2 separate regions of the Homo sapiens genome follow, and region 1 is linked to region 2. Evidence: fine-mapped expression QTL. A gene starts in region 2. The other region holds a variant in brackets. All regions are shown on one strand. Distances are from middle to middle.

Region 1 (4,313 bases), 360 kb before region 2:
CCCCTATGGGAATAATTTAAAGCCCATCCGAGTGGGGAAGAAGTTGCGTCCCAAGAGAGGGAGGCGGCTGGGCCCGGGGGGCTGTGCTGTCTCTGCTCCTTGCGGCAGGTTCCCCCGACGCCCTTCTGTTCTCAAGCTGTGTCTCGCCAAGAACCCGCAGGAAGAGCGACGTGACGACTGTGTCGTCCATCCGGAGTCTCAGGCACAGGTGCGGCTTGGTGGCCCGGAGCGATCCGCTGGGATTGCTCCCCAGGGCAGCCACGTGGAGGACACCGGAGCCGCTGGGGTCAGGTGGGAGGTGGGAGACCCAGGACGTGGCCAAGGCCCTGCCTTCAGAGGACGGCGCTGGGTTCCCGCGTGGGGTGGCCGAGGCAGGGACAGAGGAGGGAAGGAAGATGGGTGCCCGGCCACATCTCTGCATGGCGGATCCAAGCCACAGGCCCTCGACTTCCCCATATAATTGAGGGATCTTGGGTGGGGACCTGTGGATTCCTCTGAAGGCCACGTGGCGGTCCTGACACCAATTCCATGTCACACGAGGGCAGGCACACTTCCCATCCCAGCCTCGGGCAGGCCTGCAGCCCAGGGCGCCCTGCCTAAGACTTCTTCGGCCGTCTGCATGGTTCACGGGTGTGGCCCCGCGCCTCTTGTTCTGCCTCGGGGCACCCAGCATCACCTTGGCTTATACAAATAGGGACAGAGATAGAAAATTTCTCCATTATCTACAGTATAAAGAATACACCCAGGCACAGTGCGGGTTCCCAGGCAGACTCGGGTTTGCAAATGAGCTCAAATTTCAAAGCAATGCAAAATTACTTTTAAAAAACAATTTGCAAGTCATTTTTTGATTTTTAAAAAATACTGTCTATTTTTAAAACCACATGCTTAAATAGACTCTGCAGTCAATACGGTTACCAAAAGGGTTATTCTTGTCATTTCATTATAAAAATCATTTGAGTGATCTCTCTCTTTTGAGCACACCAGTCTATCCATTCCCTTCCGCGACCCCACGCGGGCACCCGGCAGTGGCCACCAGCTTCTGTCTCAGCAGAGCGTCCACCTGCCCACTGGCTGATTCTGCGAGGCAGCTCCGTTGGCTGTCTTTGGACGGCCACCTGCATGGCCGTCACTGAACAGTGTTCTCAAGACCAATCCTTGGAGATGGTGAGACTCTACGACTGCTTTAGGGACTTTTGGGATCTGAGTTTCCATTGGAAAAGTCGGAATGAACCATGGTGGGTGGGGAGGATGCTGAGGAGTGGCCACACGCAGGGACAGGGTTCTCCGGGGCCCCGCCCGCCTCCGTCCTTCGTGGCTGGTGCCCTCGCTCTGGCCACCGGCCCCCGGCTGCCCAGCCCGTCAGAGGTGGTTGATGGGGTGAAATGCTCCAGACTCCGACGTGGCTCCAGTGACCTTCAACCAAGCGTCCAGAGAACCCTGGGAGGGGGTGTGGAGAGGAGTGTCTTCGGAAAGGGACAGCATCATTGCATATGCCTGGCGGGGAGGGGATGACACACACACAGGACAGGCAGGTGAGCGCGTGGGCAGGGCGGGCCATCCCAGACAGGCAGGTGAGCGCGTGGGCAGGGCGGGCCATCCCAGACAGGCAGGTGAGCGCGTGGGCAGGGCGGGCCATCCCAGACAGGCAGGTGAGCGCGTGGGCAGGGCGGGCCATCCCAGACAGGCAGCAGATGGGCAGGGCAGGCCATCCTGGACAGGCAGGTGAGTGTGTGGGCAGGACAGGCCATCCCCGGCCAGCAGGGCCAAGCCTCGTCCGTTCCCAGCCTCCCGTGGCCCTGGCCTGGCTCAACCTTGCCCTGGGCCACAGGGGGCAGAAGGAACAAGAGGGACTAAGACCCGGATTCTCCCCGCAGCCTGGAAGAGGAAGACATGAGCAGGCGTGACGGCGGGAGGGACGAGGGCCGCCCCCTGCTCCGAGTGATGCCAGGACATTGGGGTGCTGGTGCAGGGCCTCCTGTGCACACCAGCTCCCTTGGCTGCTTTGGGGTGCTCCCCCTCGAAGCCTCCTCTCCTTCCCACCCCTTCCCCCTGTTTCCTCCACCTGGTGATCAGCAGAAACTACAGACACGTGTCTGGT[T/C]TGGGACGGCCCTGGGAACTGGGGGTCAACAAGAGCCACCCCTGCCAGGGGATGTCTGTTTTGGTGACCGTGGGGACACCAAAGAGCTGCCTCTGGGACAGGGATGTGCAGCGTTTCTGGGCCAATGGGATTCTTAGGAAGTACAGATGTGTTTCCAGGCGTTAGTTCATGGGACATCCTTCTGCCCCCAGCACAGGGCAGGTGGGGATGGGACCTGGGGAGCATCGTGTGTGGGTTAAGGGCAGGGAAGGTGGGGAAGCCCAGCACTGTCCTACCCGAGTTAACACTCCAGACAGAATTAGTAAAAAGACAAAGACAGACACGCAGACGGCTTTTGCTGAGACCTGGGGCGGGCCTGTTCCCTCTGGGAGGGCTGTAGAGTGCTGAATGAGACCCTGAGTCCCTACAGACTGGAGAGAAATGCGGGAGCAGGGCCCTGGGGCCACCTACCCTGAGGAGAGAAGCCGAGAAGCGCCTGGGGCCAAAACCCTGGCACCCTCGCTGACCTCATTGCTCCAGCTGGGAAGCAGAGACTGCCCGGCTGGACAGCTCTTCCCCCGGGAAAAGCCCGGGCTGCAGGCCACTGGGGCCCAGATCAGAGAGGGAGGGAGACGAAGGCGGCTGGGCGGGCCAGAAACCTGCTCACAGACCTTTCCCACTGAGGACCACAGGAAGGTGAGCTGCCCGTGTCCATGAGTGAGCTCCCTCGTGAGGGTCCTGCCAGGGTCATCGGCTCTCAGCCCCTCCCTGCTGCGCCCCAGCTTGCGGGAGGGCGGTGGTCGCTGGGGCCTCTCTGGAGGATGCAGCGTGGGGGCGTTTGCGTGACCAGAGCTTCCTCAGGCCTAGGAGGGCCACGGCGGGAGAGGAGTGCTGGCTGTCCTCTGGCTGAGGAGGCCAGGTGGGGTGGGGGAGGGGCTCTGGCGGGTACCTACCTGGTTCTTAGCCTGCCTGCACAGTGTATGTTTTAAAGCCTCAGAATCTAAGGTGGAATTAAGCACATCTTTAACTTCAAATGCTTCCTCAGCTGCTCTGCGGAGGTCCAGCCCCTTCCCAAAAGTCGGCATCGGCTCCAAAGCTAACAGACCGCCTTCGTGGTCCTCAGCACACCTGCACCAATGACCGGGGAGAGGGAAGGCCTGCTGTCAGCAGCCTGGCCTTGGCCGCCTCTCTGATGCTGCAAGCCCAGCTCCGGGCCTGCATGCACGCCGCTGCATCTCTGCCAGCCACATGCACAGGGAGACAGACACACGGACACACAGACGCCTGGACGGGAAGGCACACGGATGCAGGAGAGTGACGGACAGAGGTCAGGGAGGGGGTGAGTGCGTGCACACGCATCAGGCAGCAGGCAGGGGGCTCAGGTCTTGCCAGTGGAGGGTGGAGAAGAAGGCTTCAATTCTCTAAGACCCCAGGCAGCTCAGAGAGGCCCGGGGCTCCCTCTCCCAGGACTCAGGGGCAGCATCCAGGCTGGAGAGGAAGTGCCACCTCCGAAGGGCCTCCCCAAGGGCATCTGGGAATGCTGGCAGTGTCGCCCAGGCCCGATATTGGTGGCGAACACTGAGGACATGGGGAAGTGGCCCTGGCCGGCACAGAATGGTGGGTGCTTGGCCCCCGTGTGCCCACGGCCCTCTAGTGGCTGCACGCGCTGTCCCAGGCTGACAGGCAGCTCTGCTGCAGGGCCGGGGGCCTCCATGTCTGCTCAGTGCAGGGAAATGCCTTCCCCTCCACACTCTGCTTCCAGCCTCCAGGGCCCCTGGGGGTGGGTGGGGGGGTTAAGGGCCCCTGACCCCGTTGCCCCTGGCCCAGCCTTGCCCTGGCCTGTGTGTGGAGGCCCTGAGGTGGCTGTGCTGGAGTAGGGGCTGAGCCAGGGATGGGCTCACGAGTGGCTGAAGAGGGAGGTCCCCCTCGTGATGGACGCCCACGTTCCCTCCCTGCCCCATCCTGGAGCACACGGCTGCCCCCACCTTCGGGTGTGGTCAAAGCCCACGGCCAGGGAGGCGGCTGGCTCCTCATCCTCCTCATCCTCGTAGGCGGCCTGGGGCTCGGGTGCGGGGGACACGGTGTCATCCTGCGACTTCCCGGCCAGGCTGTCCTCATCGTCCTCCTCCAGGTCATCGTCGTCCTCCTCCTCCACGTCCTCCTGCTTCTCACTGGCTAGGCCTGGACACTGGGCACTGCCGTCCACGATCTGCATGTCCGCCCTGAAATGATGCAG
Region 2 (4,369 bases):
ACATCTGCTTAAAATATCGCCTGATGAAATGAAATTCTTCAGCGGATCCTGCCTTCTTGCTCAGGGCAGGCAGTGTGATCCTGAACCTGCCTCAGCCACCTTGGGGGGCCTGGGACAAGCGGTCCCAGCTGTGGAGCCTGGAAGGAGGGGTTCCCAGCGCTCGGCCAAGTGTGGACAGAGGGCCGAGGCCTGGCAGTCACCTCTCATGGGGTTTTTCCTCACTAAAGACTCTCGGGAAAAGGAAGCCAGCGCTCGGCGCTCCCGCTGGGCCCGGCTCTCCGGCCTCCTGGCCAGATGGCTGCCAGGCACCACTTCTGGTCCTGAGCGGACCCGGTCCCGGGCCACCTTCCCCACCTGGCAGAGGTGGAGCCGGCGGAGAGCTGGGGCCTCTCGGAAGTTTCCAGGGCCGCGCGGGTGCGCCGAGTCCGCCTCTCGCTTGCAGCGAAGGCCCCGGCGTCAGCGCGGCCGGTTTCCCCTTTCTCGTTCCAGCTTAGGGCCCATCCTGGGCGAGGGCCTGACCTGGCGGCCCACACGCAGCCCGGTGGTCCCGACTCTGAGCAGGCCCGCGGTGCACACACAGAACCGAACCCGAACACGCACACGCACACCCCACGCGCGGAGGGCCCGCAACGCCGCGCACAGACAGCCCCTTCGCGTCGGCGGCGAAACGCCCGGTCTTGTTCGCACCAAGAGGGGTCAGAGGTCACGGGAGGCCGAGGCCGAGGGCACCCGGCAGCGGAGCGCGGCGGGAAGGGGGCGCCTCACCCAGGGGCCGGGAACGGCCGATGGCGGGGCGCAGGAGCGTCCGGCACAAACTCGGGAGCTGCTTTTCCCTGGTGCACAGAGCGCGGGGCCTACGGCCGCGGGGCAGCTGTTGGGACGAGCCGGGCGGGCCCCGAGCCGAGGGAGCGGAGCTTCGGAAAACCGCCGCGAGTCCCGCGCGCACCCGGCTCACGTTTGGGGGCTCGGCCCCGGGAGCTGCGAGGCCGGCCTGGAGGGACCCGGCCCCGGAGGCGCGGACGGAACGGCGTGGGTCGGGCGGGGACCTCGAGGGGAGCGGCCCGGGCGCCTCTTCTGCGGGTGGGCGGGCGGGCGGCCTGCAGAGGAGGGGGCGGCGGGAGCAGGCGGCGCCGATTCCGCTCCGCGCGGCGCTGGCCGCTTCGCTGCAGCCGGGGCTTCGGCGGGGCTGCGGGAGCCGCGCTGGCCGGGCCGCGGCTCCGCCTGTCCTCACCTGCCCGCCCGCCTCACCGCGGATGGCGCCGGCGACCGGGGCTGCGGGGTGCGCGCGGGCTGCTCGGAGGCGCTGTGGCGGGCGAGGGCGCGGGTGGCTGGAGCACCCGGCCCGCGGCAAGGACCGGCTGGCGGCAGGCGGGGCGCGCGGAGCCCGGGGCTCGGCCGAGACGGAGCGAAAGAGAAAGTAAGACCGAGGACCGGGCAGCCTGGCCGGGGCAGCTCTGTCCCCGCCGGGCCCGGCTGTGCCAGGCAAGCGGGTACAGAGGGGTCCACGCGGGCCCGAGGGCGGCAGCGGCGGGTCGGGAGGTGGCCGGGTGGGTCCCTCCTGTCGGAGGCACTGTCGCCCCGGCGGCCCGCGCAGGCTGCCGGCGTCCCAGAGGAGCGCCCTCCACCACGCGGGGCACAGCCGGGGATAAACTTCACGACCACAGTTCCCAGCCCGGGCAAAAGTCTCCATTTTGCTCCCCAAGTGGCTGCGGCTGTCCCGCCGTCGCCACCCCTGCCCCTGCGCCCGCGGAGCCGGGTGGGCGCCGGCCCGCGCCCCCTCCTCCGCCCCTCCCCGGCTCGGGGTCTCCCTCCTCTGCGCCCGGCTGGCGGACGCCAAAGGCGGTGCTCTAGCGCCCACTATTTCAAAAGCCCGGAATATGATTTGACCAGGACTGAGAGCCACTCGGAGAGAGAGAGGGAGAGAGCGAGCGGGGAGGAAAAAGTTGCTCTCCCCTTTCGTCAACTTTTCGCTAACTTTCACTTTTCGCTCCCCTCCACCCCCGGCCCTCCCCCTCCGCCCCCCTCCCCGGCCCCCACCGCGCGCCTCGGGTTCCCGGGCCCGAGCGCCTGACACTGGTGGGGGGGGAGGGGGTTCCGCGGGGAGGGGGCCGGCGCCTTCGGGGAGCGCGCGGCCCGGGCGCCCCGAGCCTCCGCGCCGAGCCCGGTCGCCCCGGAGCGCGGGAGGCGGAGCAGCCCCCCGGGCCGCGCGGCCGAGCCGGGGGCCCGGAGCCGCAGGCGCGCCGGCCGCGCCCCGACGCGCACCCCTGGCCCGGGCGCCCCGGCCCGGCGGCCCGGGCCCCGGCGGCGCGGCGCGGCCGAGCGCGGGAGACTTACTTTTGGCTAGCTTCCTCGCCCTCGCCTTGGATCGCATGGTGTCGGCTCGCGGAATCTCTCTCCTCCTCCTTGAGTCCAGAAGCAGCCACACACTATCTTCATCTCCCCAGCATTGTCAGTTTGGACACCTTCGCACATGCGCACAGAGCACTCAATCTGACACCCCTCGCCGGGGCCAAAAAAACTTTGCAATGTATTCATCATCCTCATCGTCGCGCCGCCGCCGCCGCCGCCGCCGCCTCGGCGCGGGATTGGGGGGCTCTCCTCGGCCTTCTCGGTCTTCGTCTCACTTATCTCTCCCCCCTCTCCCCCCCCCCCTTTTCAGCGCAGCTCGGAACTGGCCCTTTAAGAAAACATTCCGTGTTCGGCGCTCCCGCCCGGGGCCCGCACCCCGGACACTTTAAAAGGACCCAGGTGGCCCCGGAGGCGAGGTGACTATCCCCCCACCCTGCCCCTGCGTCGCGGCGCGTCGCGCTGCTGCTCCCGCCCCAGCCGGGGCCGAAGATGGGGCGGCGGCTGCGGTTTTCCACACGACTTCCTTGGATCTCGGGGCACACGCGCCGATAGTTCGGACGCGAGTCCGGGCTGGTTTTGCTCCGTTTTACTGCGTTTGATTACTAATTTAAAAGCTTTGCGTTCCCCGTCGCCCCGGCCCGCTTTTCTCCTGCATTCTCCCCTCGGCCCCCGTCCCCGCCCTGCGATCGCTGGAGGGGGCGTCGGGGCTCGCGCGCCAGAACCCGGCTCCTCCGAAGCCCCCTCCGGGCCCCACCGCCCCCCTCGCGCCTCCCGGCCCCCGCCTCCTCCCCTTCGCCCCCACCCAACGGCTGCTGCTTCGGGCTTCGCGGCTCAAAAACAACAGCGGAGGCGCCGCCAGCTCCGCGCTCCGCCACTGCCCAGGCCGGCGGGCGGCACTCGGACCCGCCGCCCTCGGTCCCTCGCGAGGCCACGGAGGCCAACACGCCTCGCACGGGGGGACAGCGCGGGGGCAGCCGTCCAAACACCAGGCGTCCTCGGCTGGTCGTCCCAGGGCGCCCGCACCTCTCCGCCCGCGCTCTCCTGCCGCCGCGCCCCCAAGGTGAGTACCCGGCTGCGCGAGCGCCCGAGCTGGGCCACCTTCGGGGACCCGGGCCACTGGGGACACTCCCCTCTGGCCTCTCGGGGCCCAGGTGCGTAGCGGGCGGAAAGGCCAGCGGCGCAGGTGGAGCAGCTCGGACGGGAGCCGACCAGACGCTTCCTCTTCCCCTGTAGCCCCCAAACTCCGAGGCGCTGCGGCGGAGGGGCCGGGCTGAGCGCAGGCAGGGTGGCCCGGGCCCAGGAGCCTGACGGCCTGAGTGCGGATTTCTCATCTGAGTATCTGGGAATCGAGAATGAATTGGAAGGAAACCGAGGCGCTGCCCTGGCCAGGTTGCTGCCCCGCACCCTTCCGGAGCACCGAAGTCCTGCCCGGCAACGGGACTTGGAGCTGCCGCAGAGTCAGCCTGAGCCCGAGGCAGGGGTCGCGCCCGCGATGCGGGGTCTCTGCGCCGCCCCGCGAGGCTCCTGGCCTTGCCCTCCCTGCCCTTTGTTGTGTAATAAGACCTGTGGCGGCTCCACTGAGACCCACACGTGCAACTCCGCGCCTCCGCGTTAAAGGAGGTGAAACGCAGCAGCCCTGAGAAACCCCGAGACCCCGGTGTCCTAGCAGAGGCGCCCCGGATGGGGAGGGGCGCGGGGCCGGCGCCACCCCAGAGGAAAAGCCCAGCGGAGCCGGGTTGGGCAGGAGCTGGCGGCGGCGGTGCGCTGGGCCTTCTGCCTTGGATCCTCCGCGGTCGGCACCGCTTCCCTGCTCAGATTCGAACCCAGATTCGGCTCCCAAGGCTCCCACGGCTCCAGGGTGCCCAGTCTTGCAGCCAGCTCGCCGCCCGAGCCCCGGATGGAGGAAGCGCTCACTGGCCGCTACCTCTGCTGTTTCTGGCACCAGGTGAGTGTCGCCTAGAGAAGGGCCATGAGCAATGGCACAGCCCCATTCCCTGCCGTCCTTTCGAGGGTCTATCGA

Which allele goes with the higher level. Alleles are on the strand shown, and positions count from the first base shown. SD is a standard deviation of normalised expression in the study named.
For the expression in hypothalamus of the gene that starts at base 2,428 in region 2, allele T in region 1 goes with a lower level than allele C (small effect, 0.37 SD a copy in GTEx).

Evidence for each region. PIP is the estimated chance that this variant, and not a neighbour inherited with it, causes the effect.
Region 1: its variant is the best candidate, but not a certain one, in a credible set for the expression of PRDM16 in hypothalamus (GTEx, PIP 0.89).

The regions. Positions count from the first base shown.
Region 1 is chr1:3,430,858-3,435,170 of GRCh38, reverse strand. It overlaps PRDM16 (PR/SET domain 16), which reads right to left. Exons shown (of 17, transcript NM_022114.4): 15 at 4,063-4,299; 16 at 3,031-3,205; 17 at 1-1,494. The coding sequence ends at 1,360. Among named protein-coding and RNA genes, the nearest start is that of ARHGEF16, 22 kb to the left of the region's middle. RefSeq lists an enhancer at 1,211-1,720. The variant T/C (reference allele first, on the strand shown) is at 2,099.
Region 2 is chr1:3,067,262-3,071,630 of GRCh38, reverse strand. It overlaps PRDM16 (PR/SET domain 16), which reads right to left and starts at 2,428. Exons shown (of 17, transcript NM_022114.4): 1 at 2,335-2,428. The coding sequence starts at 2,371. LOC124903827 (translation initiation factor IF-2) reads left to right here. Exons shown (of 5, transcript XM_047436614.1): 1 at 1-1,417; 2 at 2,660-3,409; 3 at 3,583-4,294. The coding sequence ends at 2,683. It overlaps PRDM16-DT (PRDM16 divergent transcript), which reads left to right and starts at 3,906. Exons shown (of 6, transcript NR_015440.1): 1 at 3,906-4,294. It also overlaps the pseudogene LOC100420339. RefSeq lists an enhancer at 3,535-4,109.